Homo sapiens: one gene and its partners. The protein of the gene in region 3 purifies or fractionates together with the protein of the main gene of each other region. This does not show direct contact. Each region holds a gene or a part of one and is shown on either strand. Other genes may lie near its edges.

Region 1 (4,000 bases), on a different chromosome or scaffold from region 3:
CTTCATCATAATTAGGCTAATGACTCTCTTTGTTTTAAACCTATGACACAGTCAAGATCATTTTTCAATTCCTAAAGTAGTGCCCAGTGTCATTGGGTAAGAAATCAAAAAGCTTTCATTCAACAAATTCTTATAAACACGTACCATATACAAAATTATGCATCAGAGATAATCACAAGAATTACTTTTGCTATTATCTCAAAGACTAGGTGCAATTACAAAATATCTCTCTAGCCAGTGTTCAAGTAAAAACCAATAAGCTTTTTTGTTAGTTTGTTTTGAGACAGGGTCTCCTTCTGTCTCCCAGGCTGGAGTACAGTGGCACAATCACCACTCACTGCAGCCTTGACCGCCTGGGCTCAAGGGATCCTCCAGCAGCTTCTGGCTGGGCATGGTGGTTCACACCTGTAATCCCAGCACTTTGGGAGCCAGAGGTGGGCAGATCGCTTGAACCCAGTTCAGGAGACCAGCCTGCCAAAACCCCGTCTCTACAAAAAAAAAAAAAAAAAAGGCGAAAAATTAGCCTGTCGTGGTGGTATGCACTTGTAGTCGCTGCAACTCAGGGGGCTGAGGTGGGAGAATCACCTGAGCCAGGGAGTTCGAGGTTGCAGATCGCACCACTGCACTCCAGCCTGGGCCACAGAGACCCCATTTCCAAAATCAAAAAACAAAACAAAAAAATGTAATAAATGGCAATTAAATTCCCAAGCTAGACCACAACAGCCTATAGAGGAACCACAGTTTTTGTATGAATTATTAGAACTGCGAAGTCAGTTCTACAAATTATTGTTGAAATTACAAAATAGTGTTTGATATTTTCTAAATGAGAGCATTTCTCTTATAATTAAAACAACTTAATTCTTTAAAATTCTCTAAAACAGCCTAATTCTTTAGATTTACTTGTTATAACTTTCAACAGAGGATATAAAAAAAATGAAAATCAATATCAAAACAGACTATTGACTATGTGAAATAAAACATATCGTAACAGCCATCTTTCCAAAAGTGGCACATCTGGTTTCCATCACTGGGTAATACTTTATTAAAGAAATACAAGATGGAGTTTGTTGAAAACTGATAAAACCAATGCACTTACAGAAAAGTCAATATTCCTTACAAGCCTAAAATCCAAAATTTATTGGTCAAGTTCTAATTACATAATCTTCATAATAATAAAGATATATTTAAATAAGTATGTAAATATGAAATCCCTCGGTGAATTTTTAGGGCAAAGAGTAAATGAAATTGCAGGTAAAACAAACTACATTAAATAGGAATAAAAATAAAAACAGCCGGGCGCTGTGGCTCACGCCTGTAATCCCAGCACTTTGGGAGGCCGAGGCAGGGGGATCATCTGAAGTCGGGAGTTCGAGACCCGCCTGACCAACATGGAGAAACCCTGTTTCTACTAAAAATACAAAATTAGCCGGGCCTGTTTTTGGTGGGTTTTTTTGTTTGTTTTTTTTTTTTAGAGAATTAAAATGGCATTTTAAGAGAAAAAGCAAATAGTAACCAAATGTTAAATATTTCACCTCAAGAACTATTTGGAGAATTAAATTTCCATGTATTATTTACTGGGATCTCTTTAATAATACCCTTCTGCTCTGACATCTTTCCCATACATAATATAAAACCATCCTTTAACCCTATTTTACAGCTGGAAAAAAAAACCCGAAGCTCAAAGAGGTTAAGATTTATTGCTGGAACTAAATTCAGGTGTATTCGCTCTGACTGCAAGCCCAACTTCCCACTACAGTACTGCTCATAACAAGGTTTAACATGATTATGTGGATCTTCAATATTCTTCATAAATTAGGTGGCTCTGGATAGTTTATTAACACGTCAAAGGATTGATACAGAGTTAAGCTGAATGATATATACCAGAAGGAAAATTGTTTCCAATTCAGTGATATGCCATAAACGTGAGGAGTACAGGTTTCAACAAGATGGGTGGATACTCGTTTCGGGGAGCAACAAACAAGTTTTTCAATTTTGGTTTGGCCAGTTTCAAGTAAGAAAAAGGCCAGAATAGGCTAGTGCACAGTACACCTAGCTGGATTAACTGAATAGGCTCACTTCATGAACTTCACTCCTAAACTGGGAGGACAGGAGAGGGGAGAAAATCAAAGTGCCTCAGCCCTCTCCAGTGGAAACTATAAAAAGCCCTTGTGGAACAACCCACCGACTCACAAATCTGGAAAGGTGAGGCCTGAATGAAAATTAGGACTGGAAACTGGGGTGAAGCACTGAGTCTAACAGGACCAGGCATGCTCACAGTGCCTTCTCCTGACGTCACCTGAAGCTTACCTCTTTGACAGGTGGGAATTTCTTCTTGCACTCCAGTGACAAGGCGCGCAAGTCGCTCTGCATATTCTCCAGCAGCTTCTTCACCGCCTCGGGGCTGCTGGTGCCGGACATGATCCTCCAAGGTCCCAGCCAATTTCCGAGAGGTACAAACAAGCTCTGGCACGGTCAGCTCCTTAGGGCCACAGGCAGCTCCCTCCCGGTGTCTCTGGTCCTTCAGCAGCCCGCTTCTTGGGCCCTGGGCTGCGAACCCGGAGCCTGCTCGAGCGTCCCCCAGCAGCTTCCCCGCAACACCTCTGGCTTTTCTCGGAGGCGCCCCCCGCAGTCGCACCGTCCCGCTAGGCTCCGCCGACTCTGGCCGAGAAACCCACAAGGCGGGCAGGTCCCTCCGCTGCCGCGGGGCCCAGCCACACCGGGTGTCACCAGCCAACCTGGCAAGAAGCTTCAGCGCCAGCTCCCCAGGCCCCTAAGACTCGCCGACGCCATTAGCCGAGTCGCCCACAATTCCGAGCGCTGCCGGGACACGTCAGCCGCACTTCCGGGTACCGTGGCCTCCGCCACCGCCGCGGCCAACCCCGGCGGCAGGCCGTCGGCGGGGCGGGGCTGGGGCTTGGCCATGCTCGGGGCAGGCGGGATTCCGGGTGGGCAGCGATTCCCACAGCCCCACCCCCGGAATCAAGTAGGCTAGACAGGGTTTAAGGCGTCAAGATTCGCTTCGTTTTCATTAACAAGTGCCTGAACAGAGCCCCCGAGTACTCCTTGGCATATCTCTTTGCGTATGTTTGTGTTAAATTGTATTTCGGTGTAAATAATTTGTTTCCCTGTAGATTAATCTTAACGTGTCTCCTCCCGCTTCATTTCGAATCTCTGGACTAGTGGCCCCAAATCAGTGGCTACCTCCTGTTAATATACATTTTTTTTCTTTAAACGCAACTGGTGCACTTACTGTGGGGTAGCCTCTTATTTTCCTAATCTCTAAAATGAGACTACCCTCTGCTCCACGCATTCCGCTGGCCTCCCATCTCACTCAAAGTAAAAGCCAAAATTCCTCCAATCACCTACCAGGCGCTACGAGATCTGTCCCGGCCCCTTTACTGGCAGATGCTCCCAGCTAAAAGGAGAGTTTCGCGAGTTGGGCTGCCGGTTCTTCCTCTTTTTAAATCTTATTTTGTTTCCTGTGTATCTCCAGCACCTAGAACAGTGTCTGGCATATAGCAGGTAATCAGTACATACTTGTTGAATGAATACCCTTCTATTATAAAATCAGAGTTTCGAGGCTCAAATAAGGCACAGATACATAAAAGCCTTCATCAGGTCTGAAGTGCCAAATAAATATGAGGCAAAAGCCAAACAGAAAAATCTTCATCTGTATTTCCCCAAGATCCAGGTTGGTCTACTTTTTCCCCAAGACATTTTGCAGCTGCTGGTCAGAAAGCAGAAAATGAGGGAGGAAAAACCAGAAACAGTAGAGATGAAGAAACCAACACCTTCAGACAGCTGAGCTTATGACATGATGGAAGACAGTGAGCCATGAGATTGTCAGTGGATAGCGCTGTTTGGCTGTAACAGAGCTACTTTGTAAGCTAAATAATTTTATTTTATTTTTCCTTCTGATAAGAAGCAAAGCAAGGATGGATAAAGGGGACAGATGAGGTAATAGTAGAGAGCTCCTAGGGCAGTAATTTTGATCATTTGT
Region 2 (3,500 bases), about 51 Mb from region 3:
TACCATAATCACAATCAGGAAGGCAAAGAAGCTTTAGCAGGCAGGCTTGAAGATGGGAGTTTTCATGGCTTGACCATGAATGATCTCAAGATGATTTCATAAGATTAAAAGCCATCACGAAAATACTGAAAGCAACAGGTAATAATCTGGATTCAGTCTGTAGTTGCTCATGAACCACGCGTTTTAATAAAAGGAACATTAAGTAAATTGTAGGTATAAAAGAATCAGTGCATATCTGTTAATGTCATTGACAATAAAAATATATTATCTTCTCAGCTCAGCTCTAAATTAACAAAACACCTATTTTTTTTTTCCCACTCCTCATTTTAGTGGTTCTCAAACATTGGTGTGCTCAGAATCTCCTGAGGTGCCTATTGAACAATGACATCCCAAAGCCCCACCCCTAAGATTTGATTCAGGTTGTCTGAAACCAGGCGCCATGACCCAGATGGTCCATGGATCATACTTTGAGAAACACTGATATCCCCTTAATACATAACAAAACATTGTTTACTGTTTATGACTTCATGGTAAAGTTTTAAGCTGAATAAAACATTCAAACAATTATTAGAACACAAATAGGTACATTAAATAAGGATATAAGCCATTACGCAATTGCATTTTCCTTTTAAAAGTGGCATCATAGACACAATGACTTACATAAAAATTTTAAAATCAATTTTGTTTTAATCCAAGGCACCTGTAAAACACTTGCTGGTGTGAGAGAAGTGAACAAATTCAATTATACAAAATAGTACAGAAATGAAAGAATCCTGGCAGTGATTGATTTTTCCACAGAGCAAACCTTTTTGTTCAGAAATGAGCTCCTTAAAGTCAATGATTTTGAGAAAAACCACACTTCAAATATGATACACATCATGTGAACTACTTTGCTGAGTGATTTTCAAGCAAAGTATATCACTAAGTATAAAAGATAAAAGGCTCATGCTCATGCTGTTTCATAATAGCCATCTCCATTTGTAGTAAGAATAATCAGAATGATTCCCCTTGAATTTCAGCCTGAAAAATGTATACTGCATAGATCTGGTATTCCTTTAATGCACAGGCACATATGACCATGGACTTTATAATACTGGATTTGGCAGCCTTTTATCTCAAGAGGATTTCTCAAGTTTCATAGTTTACAACTTAAATATTCCTCTGAAGGTATTTAATTTTTTTTCATGGAGCAAGAGTAAATTCTGTGATGATGAAGCCTCTGAAACATGAATTTCAAAATGTTAACACTACAAAAGAAAAATGCTAGAGAAGCATTTTCTGTGTTGAAATGACTGAAGTAAAGTGAGTTATCACTGGCATATTCTCTTTCAGTGTTCTAGGATAAATATCAACATAAAAAGCAACGCCAGACTGTTTGCACACACAGCACTCGTTTGGTATTGCTATAATACAGAGTTCTTCAGAAAGTCTTTATATATAGATTTTAGGTCGTTAGCCCAATCTGTAAATGACATTTGAGAGCAAACCTAGGGAGGCTTGGAATAATTCAACAGTACTATTTTATAAGATAGTATTGTTTGGAATTCTATGGCAAATGAAAGACAACCATTTTAGCTAAAAGAAGTAAAAGAGTATTTTGAAGGCAGCAAAAATCAGTATAAATCAGCTGTGAACAGAATTAAATTTGCATCTTAAAATGTCATTTACAGACTGTTTCTGTAATACCTAGAAGTATGCACAAAGACTATAAAAACTCCTTCCAGTCTGACATTTCAAGGTTAAGTTTACTAACAAGTGCTTCACAATGTCCTTAGTTCTGGCACTAAAAGGAAACAATTAGAAGTATTCACTGTTTTTCAAATTTTGCCTTCAAGAATCTTAAAACTGCTTCTACTACAGCCTCCTTGATTTAAAAGAGTATGCAAATGGTCACTAACCCCAGCCAGCATGAAGTAACTAATGTAAACCAGAATGTAGTGGCAGGTTTTGTGAATTTAAATCCTCAGATCATGCAATTTGAGCTGAATTTACATGCTGTAGTAAAGGGAGAAATAAATTCCTTAAGTTACAAATATAAATATAAAAATTATTTTCATAATATTGACCTGACCCCATTGGAATGAAGACATTCAAGAATATGGGCAATCATGAATGAATACATTACCAGGCAAAATACCTATAAAAGCCATTCTCAGAGGAATGTTTCCACCCACAAGGTTTTTTAGGCAAAAAGCAGCTATTAATTTTCCTCTAAAATTTCCTTTAAAAGTGAAATATATCATTGATAAATAGAGGAAAAAAAAATTTCACTTAACATTTTGAAGTCTATTACCAGATCCTTAAAGCTCTCAGACAAAATATTCTTTGATTTCAAAGGAAGTTGCATTAAGATGAAAGGACTGCAGGCCCAGGCCTTTGATTAGGAAGTCTGACCTCTAAAAAAGACTTTGGTTACAAAATAAACCTGATGGGACTTCTTAATTAGACCTCATATTCTGGGAGGCATGAGGGCAAGTGTGTTTACGTTATACAGGGAAACCTGCAATATTGGAGACTTAGGGGGTAACATTCATATCCAGGGGTTGCCCCCACTTTATTTACCCTCTTACTGGTCAATATTCTGCTCAGAGGCTGCATCATACTGACCAGAAATTCACTGAAATTTAGACAGATTTACATACTGTGAACAAATTAAAATGTGGTTGTCTTTGCTTTAAGGTTTATTCTTAACTGCAAATCAATGTTTAAACAGTTATTTTATTAAGAAAATTAATAATTTAGACTATGAAGCAATTTAAATACTTAAATTCCCTCAAAACGACATCATTTTGTACACAAATAGATGAAGTACACAGGAAAATGGTAGTCAAAAGAATTTTTTGGCAGCTGCTTCTTGCTGAGACCTAATGAAAAAAAGAAACAAACACTTAAAGAAGTTCTATACGCTTAACTTTGGAAAGAAACAGGACTATTTAAAATTAAAATATCAATGCCTTTTGAAGTATACAACGCATTAAGATAAACATATATTCTACACGTGCACTTTATGTGAACTGAAATGAACAGAAATCACAATAAACTTAATTTTATAGGTGGTGAAAATTGTATTATGAACATAGATAACTTAGTTGAATATTTCTAATTAAACAGATGCAGAAAAATATTGGGTCACATTTTATCAAGAGACTTACCTATACATGATATAACCAATGAATAATACAGTTTGCACCACAACAAATATAATGAAGTGGACCGTAGACAAACATGATGGAAATGGTGGTAGTTCTGGGCATTTCGGCTTTTCATTTGATGGCTGTAAGGCAAATGACTTTCTATTACAGTTAGTCAAAATAGCAGTTTGGAAAAAGAAATAAATGTGAAATCTTTATAAAACTGTTTGCTATATAAACAAGTATTTTCATTTTTTCATCCCCCAGAAAACCTTCTATCCCCTTAACTTTTACTGACAACTGTTTTTGAAGGAGTAGTTGACACTGGAAGGCCTCCACCTTTTTACTACCCAGTCACTAACTCACTGC
Region 3 (5,067 bases):
AGATATCTACTCGGATAATGTATTTGTCACAGCAGATTCTTAACATGTTTTTATTTGTGATGAGACTTGAACCAGCCTAATATTTAGGTTTAAAGTCTCTAACAAAACTAAGATTCTTCCCTGCTGTACACACCCTACCCTGTTGAAAGTGCTCTGGCAAGTGAGACATCATGATGTACAGAAAGGACACTAGTTTGCCTACAAACTGTTTTGTCATTTTAGAGTTCATCATTATCATCATCATTATTACTACCATTATTTAATTTTCATCTTGGTTCATTTGTTTTTGATTATTTTTCCTTTTCTTTCAGTTGCTATACTGCTTCACTGTGACCTGCCACTACCCATGTTATTGATTAGTGGGATGCAAATCTAGTAGTATCTCTAAAAATTCCCTTGTGGAAAAGTTAATTTGTTGGAAGTTATAAGTAAATTATAAATTTCTAGTCTACCTGAACAAACATAAATAGAAAGAATGAATAGATTCGTATTCATATTTGTGCACCACATTTTCCTGTCTTATGGCAGTGTAGTAGTATCTTGGCTCACTGTGATAAAAATTACCAGGGACTTATTTCCATTTCCGCACACTGCCACAGCTCATGACAATTTGCATGCAGTTAGGACTCAAATATGAAATTTAACTTTTTCTCCAATTATAATTTTATGGCCATATTTTGTATATAGATATATTTTTTAATGAGATAACATGCTAGATACTACTAGTTTTATAAGGTTATTACCTTGAGGCAATTACTTTAAAATATACACTAACATTTTTAGGCCACTTGTCTATAATTTAACACTTTTTTATATACCATATCATATTTGGAGTGCTAAATTTTACAAATGGGAGAAACTAAAGTCCATAGAGTTTTTAACCTTTTAAGGTCACACACTGATTTGTGGCCAGCCTCCCAAATAAAGACCAAGTCCTTTAATTGACTAACCATCACTCTCATCTTTATTCATGTCTAGCCACTTTTGATAACCAAGGACATAAAAATATTTCATATAATCTCCACAATGCATGTATATATGCATATATATATCAATACCCTATTTAGTTACGTTTCTATATTTCATATGTAAACATATTTCATACAGTTAAATATGATACTGACATATTTATTGATGTATTAGGCATTTACATGTGCGTATCCATTAGATATATGTCTGTGTGTGTATAAATACTGCCATTACTGGCTTGATTTAGAATTAGTTTTATGGTGTCCTTTCACTTGAATTAAGAAATATTTTAAATTGCATTTTATCACTTTGTACAGATTAAGATTCTTGCCTTCTCCTTCCTTCCTTCTTTACCTCTTTCATCCTTTCCCTTTGGGAAAATTTGTTGAAAATGCAAATGTGGCCGGGCACAGTGGCTCATGCCTGTAATCCCAGCACTTTGGGAGGCTGAGGCGGGTGGATCACAAGGTCAGGAGATTGAGACCATCCTGGCTAACACGGTGAAACCCTGTCTCTACTAAAAATACAAAATTAGCCGGGCATGGTGGCGGGCGCCTGTAGTCCCAGCTACTCGGAAGGCTGAGGCAGGAGAATGGTGTGAACCTGGGAGACAGAGCTTGCAGTGAGCCAAGATGGCGACACTGCACTGGGCGACAGAGCAAGACTCCATCTCAAAAAAAAAAAAAAAGAAAAGAAAATGTAAATGTTGGCCGGGCGTGGTGGCTCATGCCTATAATCCCAGCACTTTGGGAGGCCGAGGCTGGCAGATCACTTGAGGTCAGGAGTTCGAGACCAGCCCGGCCAACATGGTGAAACTCCATTTCTAGTAGAAATACAAAAACTAACCAGCTGTGGTGGCACACACCTGTAATCCCAGCTACTCAGGAGGCTGGGGCTGGAGAATCACTTGAACCTGGGAGGCGGAGGCTGCAGTGAGCCACGATGGTGCCACTGCACTGCAGCCTCGGTGACAGAGCAAGATTCTGTCTAAAAACGAAAATTTAAATGTTGCCGTATTCTTGTGCTGATTCTTCTGTAAACCAAAAGTCCTTTTGAATGTCTGTCCCAATTATTTCCAGGTTCTAGTTGAATACTTCATTTGATTTAGCATATCTGGTACTTTTCTTAATGGAGAATTAAAACAGAAAACATTCTCAGGAAACAAATGCATTAAAGTCCCATCTATTTTAGGATACTAGTTACAATGTCTTAAATGAGTGAGTGTACTCATGACCCTTTGTGACTTTGCCCCTGAGTTTCATTTTGAATGGCAGTTCAACAACCCTTGCTAGCATTTGCAACTCGAAAGTAATTAACTGCTCTTTCAGTCTGGCTACATAAATGCCTTAGGATGTACCATAAAAGGCCCATTTCATGTCTCGGTTCAAGGAATCGCCTAATGATATGAATTGATGTTAAATCATTGTGAGTTAAGGCAGAGCTGTTTAAAGAAATGAAAAACCAGCACAAAGTTTCAGTTTATAAACAACAGGAACAATATTTTAGTAAATTTACATTATGTTTGTAGTCTCTGAAGGAAAATTCATTCACAGTTTTGTGTCTTATTTTGACTTAGTCGAGTGAGATTTCCCCAGCAATTGTAAAAAGTCAGTATGACTTATCCCACCTTGAATATAAAAAAGAACTAAGACAACCAACTCAACAAAGGGAACCAATGTTGCTGGTTTTTAGCTGGTCTAGGAGTTTACCCGGTATCAGCTCAGGTGCAAACCTCATGTGGTGCTAGCTTCTCTGAGGTCCTCTGCAGCAGGGAACATGGCTGTGATCGATTAGCTATGTCTGCCATGCAAGAGGATGCAAGAGGGTAGCAGAAATTTCAGCAAGCAAGCCAGCATTCCAGTAATAGGATATAGCGGATTTTATTTTTCCGTGCATTTGTATGAGCAAAATGAGGAGTTAAAAACAGAACATGCCAAAAAGGCACAAACCACCCATAGATACAGTCTTGAAAAAAATCACTAGATTTATGTTTTTCTGAGAGGGAGATTTATGCCGGTAGAAATACGTTGTTTTGTACAATGATCTCATTTATCATGTGTGGTATCACCCACAGTGGCATCGGCATGTGGAATACCTTCATTTGGTGCCTAGAGAGCCTTTCAACGGGCATCTAACTAATATACTGGGAGTACTATTTATGATAAGATTGACAATGATATAGGAAAGAGTCGGTCTCAGATTTTAAACAAAGAGAGGGACTTTCTTGGGTTGTAAAGTGTGTTTGCTAGTGATTTCTTAGTTTTATCAAGCTGTGCATGGTATGTTTTTTGCTTCAGAGCTTTCCTTTCTATTCACTGCTTTAGTAAGACTTACTACTGGAAGTTCCCTGAATGGCAGCAGTGGTGGACTTCATTATCCAGAATGCTCGATTCTCCTGTAGCAAAATGAATCCATTGTGATAGTTATTTTGGAAAATGAGTCATCCTGGAAATGTATTTTTGATGAGATAAACTGTAATTTCAGGCATGTTTTTAAAGTGGTGATACCTTTGGAATATAAATATAAGGAAACAATTTAATGATATAAGAACTAATACCTTTGATGATTTTGAAGACATTCTCAATAAGGAGATTAACAATGAATGCTTCCTAGAGCTTAAATACTACTACTTGAGAGAACTTTTACCAGTTAACTTTAGTGGAAAAAAAAAATCCTTTGATATCTGTGTAACTGACTCACTGTAATGAGTGGGCTTACTCATTCAAGATATTGTAATTAGTATCCTAAAACAGGCATCACTTTAATGCATTTTTGTCTTGAGAATATTTTCTGTATTCACCATTACAAAAAGTATCAGATATGCTAATTTGCATATGCTATGCACGGTGGTTGGTGTCCTAAAACAAATTAGGGTTATGCCTACTTGAATAAGCTTATGTGTTTAAAGATGGTTTATTTCACAACTTTGAATGCTATGAAAATCTTTTTCAACATACTTTTTCTTGTTAACCCAAACAAAATTTTTCTCATCAATTTATTCCTGAAATTTTATTATCTTCTACATTTTAATAATTGATGCATGTTTAGCTCTTTTAAGACTGAAGACAAAGCATCTGAAAGACAGCTTTCTGGTTTGTCTTTCAGAACCACCCGTTCCTATTGCCCCACCTCAGCTCGCCTCTGTAGGAGCCACCTACCTGTGGATACAGCTCAACGCCAACTCCATCAATGGGGATGGGCCCATTGTGGCCCGAGAGGTGGAGTACTGCACGGCCAGTGGGAGCTGGAATGACCGGCAGCCAGTCGATTCCACGAGCTATAAAATTGGACACCTTGACCCAGATACAGAATATGAGATTAGTGTGCTCCTGACCAGGCCAGGGGAGGGTGGCACTGGCTCTCCTGGTCCAGCTCTCAGGACAAGAACAAAGTGTGCTGGTGAGTATAAGGAACCCTGCAATTAATTGTCATTGTCTTTCCTGGTGTTGACTGGCAGCACTGGGGTTGATCAGATGCCTAGCACGCTTCCCCTAGCTCTATCAAAACCTGCATATGAACAGAAAATGCCCTTAGCCTGTGAATAGTCAGCTAACAGCTTGTGAACTTGGGGACCAGTAACCTCCAGGCTTGGTATTTCTCAGCCTGCCCCCACCCTTTTTCCTATTGTTAATTTACTTCTTACTCTGAGTACCACATTGTTCATATAGGAATTGTCTGTGAAGTTTACAGAAACTGTCTACTCTAATGATGTCCTCTAATAGGTCAGACTCTCTTACTTGGGCCCCTTTGTTTTATGTTCATAGTTAATGTGCCAGCAGCCTGGAGGGGCTCTGGAATAACAGATTCCATCTTAGAGATAGCCTTAAAGATGTGTTTTCATTGATGAGTGTTTAATGGAGGGTCTGCTGGCGAATGACTTGGGCCTGTTTGTATCATAAGCAAGAGTGATTTGTGTGCTGGGTGCAGTCTTTAGTTTCTTAGATTATAAATTTCTAATTGTGCTAAACCCATTCCGCAACTTAAGTAAAAGTAGGGTTAATGGAGAGAGAAGTGTAAAATCTTCCAAAAATCAAAACCTGAATGAAGCTCCCCAATTAGAGATTGTAGTGTTGTTTCCGTATGGCTACTCTGTGGTAG
Region 4 (3,500 bases), on a different chromosome or scaffold from region 3:
ATTTTTAAAAACAACTTTGTAATTTGGCAACACACATGCTTCTTTATTAAGGCATTAATTAGGGAGTTCTCGCAGTGGGTCTAAGCACTATCATAATGTTGAAGCAGTGGTGAGCATAAATTATGCTATTTTGAGAGATCTGCAACAGTGGTAATGTGATAGGAGGAAAGTATCTGTGATTAAATTGGTGACAGTCACAGGTTTTGCTAATACTAATGTGGTCTGTTGACAACATGCATAACTGGAAGGAAATGTCAAACGTCAGCTTGAGAACAAGAAAAGCTGTCGTTTTTTTCTTGGCTATCTCAGTTCTTGGGCTCCTTGCAGGGTCTTCCACTGACCTCAGGCCAAGAACCCCTGCCCTTCACAGAGTTTTGTGGAAGACTACACCCATGAACTAGAAATTGCTGTTCTGAGAAGCAAGGGCTGTGTGGTCAGATCAGGGTGAGAAAGGCTGTAACCTTGGCTCCTGGGCGAGACCCACAACATCTGCTGCTATTTGAAAGCCTTAGAGGAGGCTGACTGTGTAAAGAAGACGGATTCTGCTTTGCCCCAGAGGTTCCCAAGTTTTTTTTCTGACCACAGAACTTTTTTGTCTTGGAACCCATCTTAACCATCTCTCTTCTCGGGAATGAAAAGCCCAGTCTCTGTTGCGTTTGCCCAGGATTCAGGGTAGGCCACTCCTCCTGGGCACTGCGTTCTCCACATCCCTCTAACGCACAGGCCACAAAGCCAGACCACAGGCTCGTGTGACTTGGCTCCTGTCATGTTTCATAAAAATGAATTAATTCTCACGCCTGTAATCCCAGCACTTTGGGAGGCCAAGGTGAGTGGATCACCTGAGGTCAGGAGTTCGGGACCAGCCTGGCCAACATGGCGAAATTCCGTCTCTACTAAAAATACAAAATTAGCTGGGCGTGGTGGCGTATGCCTGTACTCCCAGCTACTCTGGAGGCTGAGGCAGGAGAATCACTTGAACCCAGGAGGCGGAGGTTGCAGTTAGCCGAGATTGCACCAGCCTGGGCAACAAGAGTGAAACTGCATCTCCAAAAAAAAAAAAAAGAATTGCCCATATATTTGAAAGTCAAGAGGCTGGGCATGGTAGTTGCCTGTACTCCCAGCATCATGGTGGGTGCCTGTACTCCCAGCACTTTGGGAGGCCAAGGCAGGAAGATCACTTGAGCCCAGGAGTTCAAAACCAGCCTGGGCAACATAGTGAGACCCAATTTCTACCAAAAAAAAAAAAAAAGAGAGAGAGAGAGAGCAAGAGAGACAGGCATGGTGGCATGTGCCTGTGGCCCCAACTACTTGGGTAGGCTGAGGTGGGAGGATCACTTGAGCCCGGGAGGTTGAGGCTGCAATGAGCTATGATCACACCACTGTACTCCAGCCTGGGCAACAGAGCAAGAACCTATCTTAAAAAACAAAAAGAAAAAGAAAAAGTCAAGAGATTTCATAGGAAGATAACCTGAATTTCTAGCTCTTCCTGCAAAACTGGAAGATCTGGCCACATGCAGCTGGAGCTGTAGATGGTCCAGGTGCCAATAGTTGGGCTGTTTGCCACAGTCCCCACCATACCTTATTGTGTTCCATCTTATTTTATTAACTGGTCTACAGAAGCTCCAGCACAGCACAGCCTGCGGTCACTCGTTTGTGGGTTTTTTTTTGTTTTTTTTTTTTTTTTTGAGTTTGGCTCTTGTCGCCCAGGCTGGAGTGTAATGGCACGATCCTGGCTCACTGAAACCTCTGCCTCCCAGGTTCAAGCGATTCTCCTGCCTCAGCCTCCAGAGTAGCTGGGATTACAGGCGCGCACCACCACACCTGGCTAATTTTTGTATTTTTAGTAGAGACGGTTTCATCATGTTGGCCAGGATGGTCTTGCACTCCTGACAGGTGATCCGCCCACCTCAGCCTCCTAAAGTGCTGGGATTACAGGTGTGAGCCACCTCGCCCAGCCTCAGTAACTATTGTTTTAAGGCTGTTGATAGAGAATGATTGCAACAGCTTGGTGGGAAGTGGGTAGGGTATACGGGGGGGATGAGGAGGGGTGAGTAGGAGGGAAATGGTGGGAAGGTAGGTGTTGGCAGTGCAGGCCTCCCTTGATGCAGGTGCCCACCTTGGGATGGGAAGAGGTGGACATCTGTGTGCCTGCCCTTCTCCCCTGCAGATGTTTATCATTGACAAGGTGGATGGGGACATCTGCCTCCTGAATGAGTTCTCCATCACCGGCTCCACTTACGCTCCAGAGGGAGAGGTGTAAGTCACCCAGGCATCTTCTCCCCAGCTCCTCACGCCCCTTCCCACACCCCCTTTCTCCCTGGGGCCCTCCATGTGGTTTTGCTCTCCTTTCACTCTCCTCTTCCTCCCCGACCTTGTTCTCTCTCCTGATATCCGAGTTGGCTCTCCCCACTGTCCTTCCTTACCCTCTGCTGCCTGCTCTTCCTGTGCCCTCTCTGCATCTCATTCCCTGTTCTTCTCCACTGTCTCTGTCCCTTCCTCCCCTGACCCTGCTGCCAGCTTGAAGAATGATAAGCCAGTCCGGCCAGGGCAGTATGACGGGCTGGTGGAGCTGGCCACCATCTGTGCCCTCTGCAATGACTCCTCCTTGGACTTCAACGAGGTAACCTCTCCTTCCCCTTCCAGTTGGCTCAGAGTCTGGGCCTCCTCCGAAGGCCAGGAGGAAAGGGTTGGAGGAAGGGGACCCAGTACACCCAGCCCTCTGCCAGGGTGCAAGGGAGGCAGTGGTTTGCTTCCTTCTTACGCTAGGTGGAAGGAGGGTATGACAGGTAGGAGCCTGGGGCACCGACTTCCTCTTCCTCCTCTGCCCATCTCAGGCCAAAGGTGTCTATGAGAAGGTCGGCGAGGCCACCGAGACAGCACTCACCACCCTGGTGGAGAAGATGAATGTGTTCAACACGGATGTGAGAAGCCTCTCGAAGGTGGAGAGAGCCAACGCCTGCAACTCGGTGAGCCTGCGGAGCCCCTGCCACAGGGCCGTCTCCACTCTATGCTGCATAGACTAGAGGAAGGCAGAGGCCCTGGTTGGGCAGAGCCTAGTGCCTGTGCTGGGACCCCACCCAGGCAGCAGACAGCCCCTGCAGCTTCTCCACAGGCTGATGTGGGTGGGACCCATTGTCCCTGGGGCTGCCTGGCGGCCATGCCCTTGATGAATCTATGATCACTTCTGCCCGCTGTGTCCTGATTTGAAGTGGACAAAGCTGGACACGGAAACCACAAGGGACCCATCCAGGAGCAGCCCCAACTTCATCTGTTATTCCTTTGTTTCTAGAAGCACACTTGTTTTCAGCAGATGATGAGTCCTGACTTAGGATTTGGGAAATGTGGCTACTGCACCTATAGGGAAAGCCTTTCCTTGCCCAGATGAACCCGGCCACTTCTAGGACTGTCACTCCCAGTTATTGCTATTGATACTTGCTGAACGTCTCCATTAAGCACTTCTCTCTGGGGAATTATATTCCCCACATTTCTCTCTTTCTCTC

The links.
Region 1: the proteins of PTPRM (region 3) and MON2 purify together in Homo sapiens (affinity purification with mass spectrometry, with the first as the bait; one large-scale study listed by BioGRID). This does not show direct contact.
Region 2: the proteins of PTPRM (region 3) and LMAN1 purify together in Homo sapiens (affinity purification with mass spectrometry, with the first as the bait; one large-scale study listed by BioGRID). This does not show direct contact.
Region 4: the proteins of PTPRM (region 3) and ATP2A1 purify together in Homo sapiens (affinity purification with mass spectrometry, with the first as the bait; one large-scale study listed by BioGRID). This does not show direct contact.

The regions. Positions count from the first base shown.
Region 1 is NC_000012.12:62,465,626-62,469,625, reverse strand, and holds the start of MON2 (protein MON2 homolog), read right to left. Parts: upstream 2,801-4,000; 5' UTR 2,419-2,800; coding exon 2,308-2,418; intron 1-2,307. UniProt on the Homo sapiens protein: Plays a role in regulating membrane trafficking of cargo proteins. Together with ATP9A and DOP1B, regulates SNX3 retromer-mediated endosomal sorting of WLS away from lysosomal degradation.
Region 2 is NC_000018.10:59,328,266-59,331,765, forward strand, and holds part of LMAN1 (protein ERGIC-53 precursor), read right to left. Parts: intron 3,275-3,500; coding exon 3,153-3,274; intron 2,865-3,152; coding exon 2,828-2,864; 3' UTR 1-2,827. UniProt on the Homo sapiens protein: Mannose-specific lectin. May recognize sugar residues of glycoproteins, glycolipids, or glycosylphosphatidyl inositol anchors and may be involved in the sorting or recycling of proteins, lipids, or both.
Region 3 is NC_000018.10:7,951,047-7,956,113, forward strand, and holds part of PTPRM (receptor-type tyrosine-protein phosphatase mu isoform 1 precursor), read left to right. Parts: intron 1-4,074; coding exon 4,075-4,368; intron 4,369-5,067. UniProt on the Homo sapiens protein: Receptor protein-tyrosine phosphatase that mediates homotypic cell-cell interactions and plays a role in adipogenic differentiation via modulation of p120 catenin/CTNND1 phosphorylation.
Region 4 is NC_000016.10:28,891,988-28,895,487, forward strand, and holds part of ATP2A1 (sarcoplasmic/endoplasmic reticulum calcium ATPase 1), read left to right. Parts: intron 1-2,167; coding exon 2,168-2,256; intron 2,257-2,517; coding exon 2,518-2,620; intron 2,621-2,834; coding exon 2,835-2,966; intron 2,967-3,500. UniProt on the Homo sapiens protein: Key regulator of striated muscle performance by acting as the major Ca(2+) ATPase responsible for the reuptake of cytosolic Ca(2+) into the sarcoplasmic reticulum.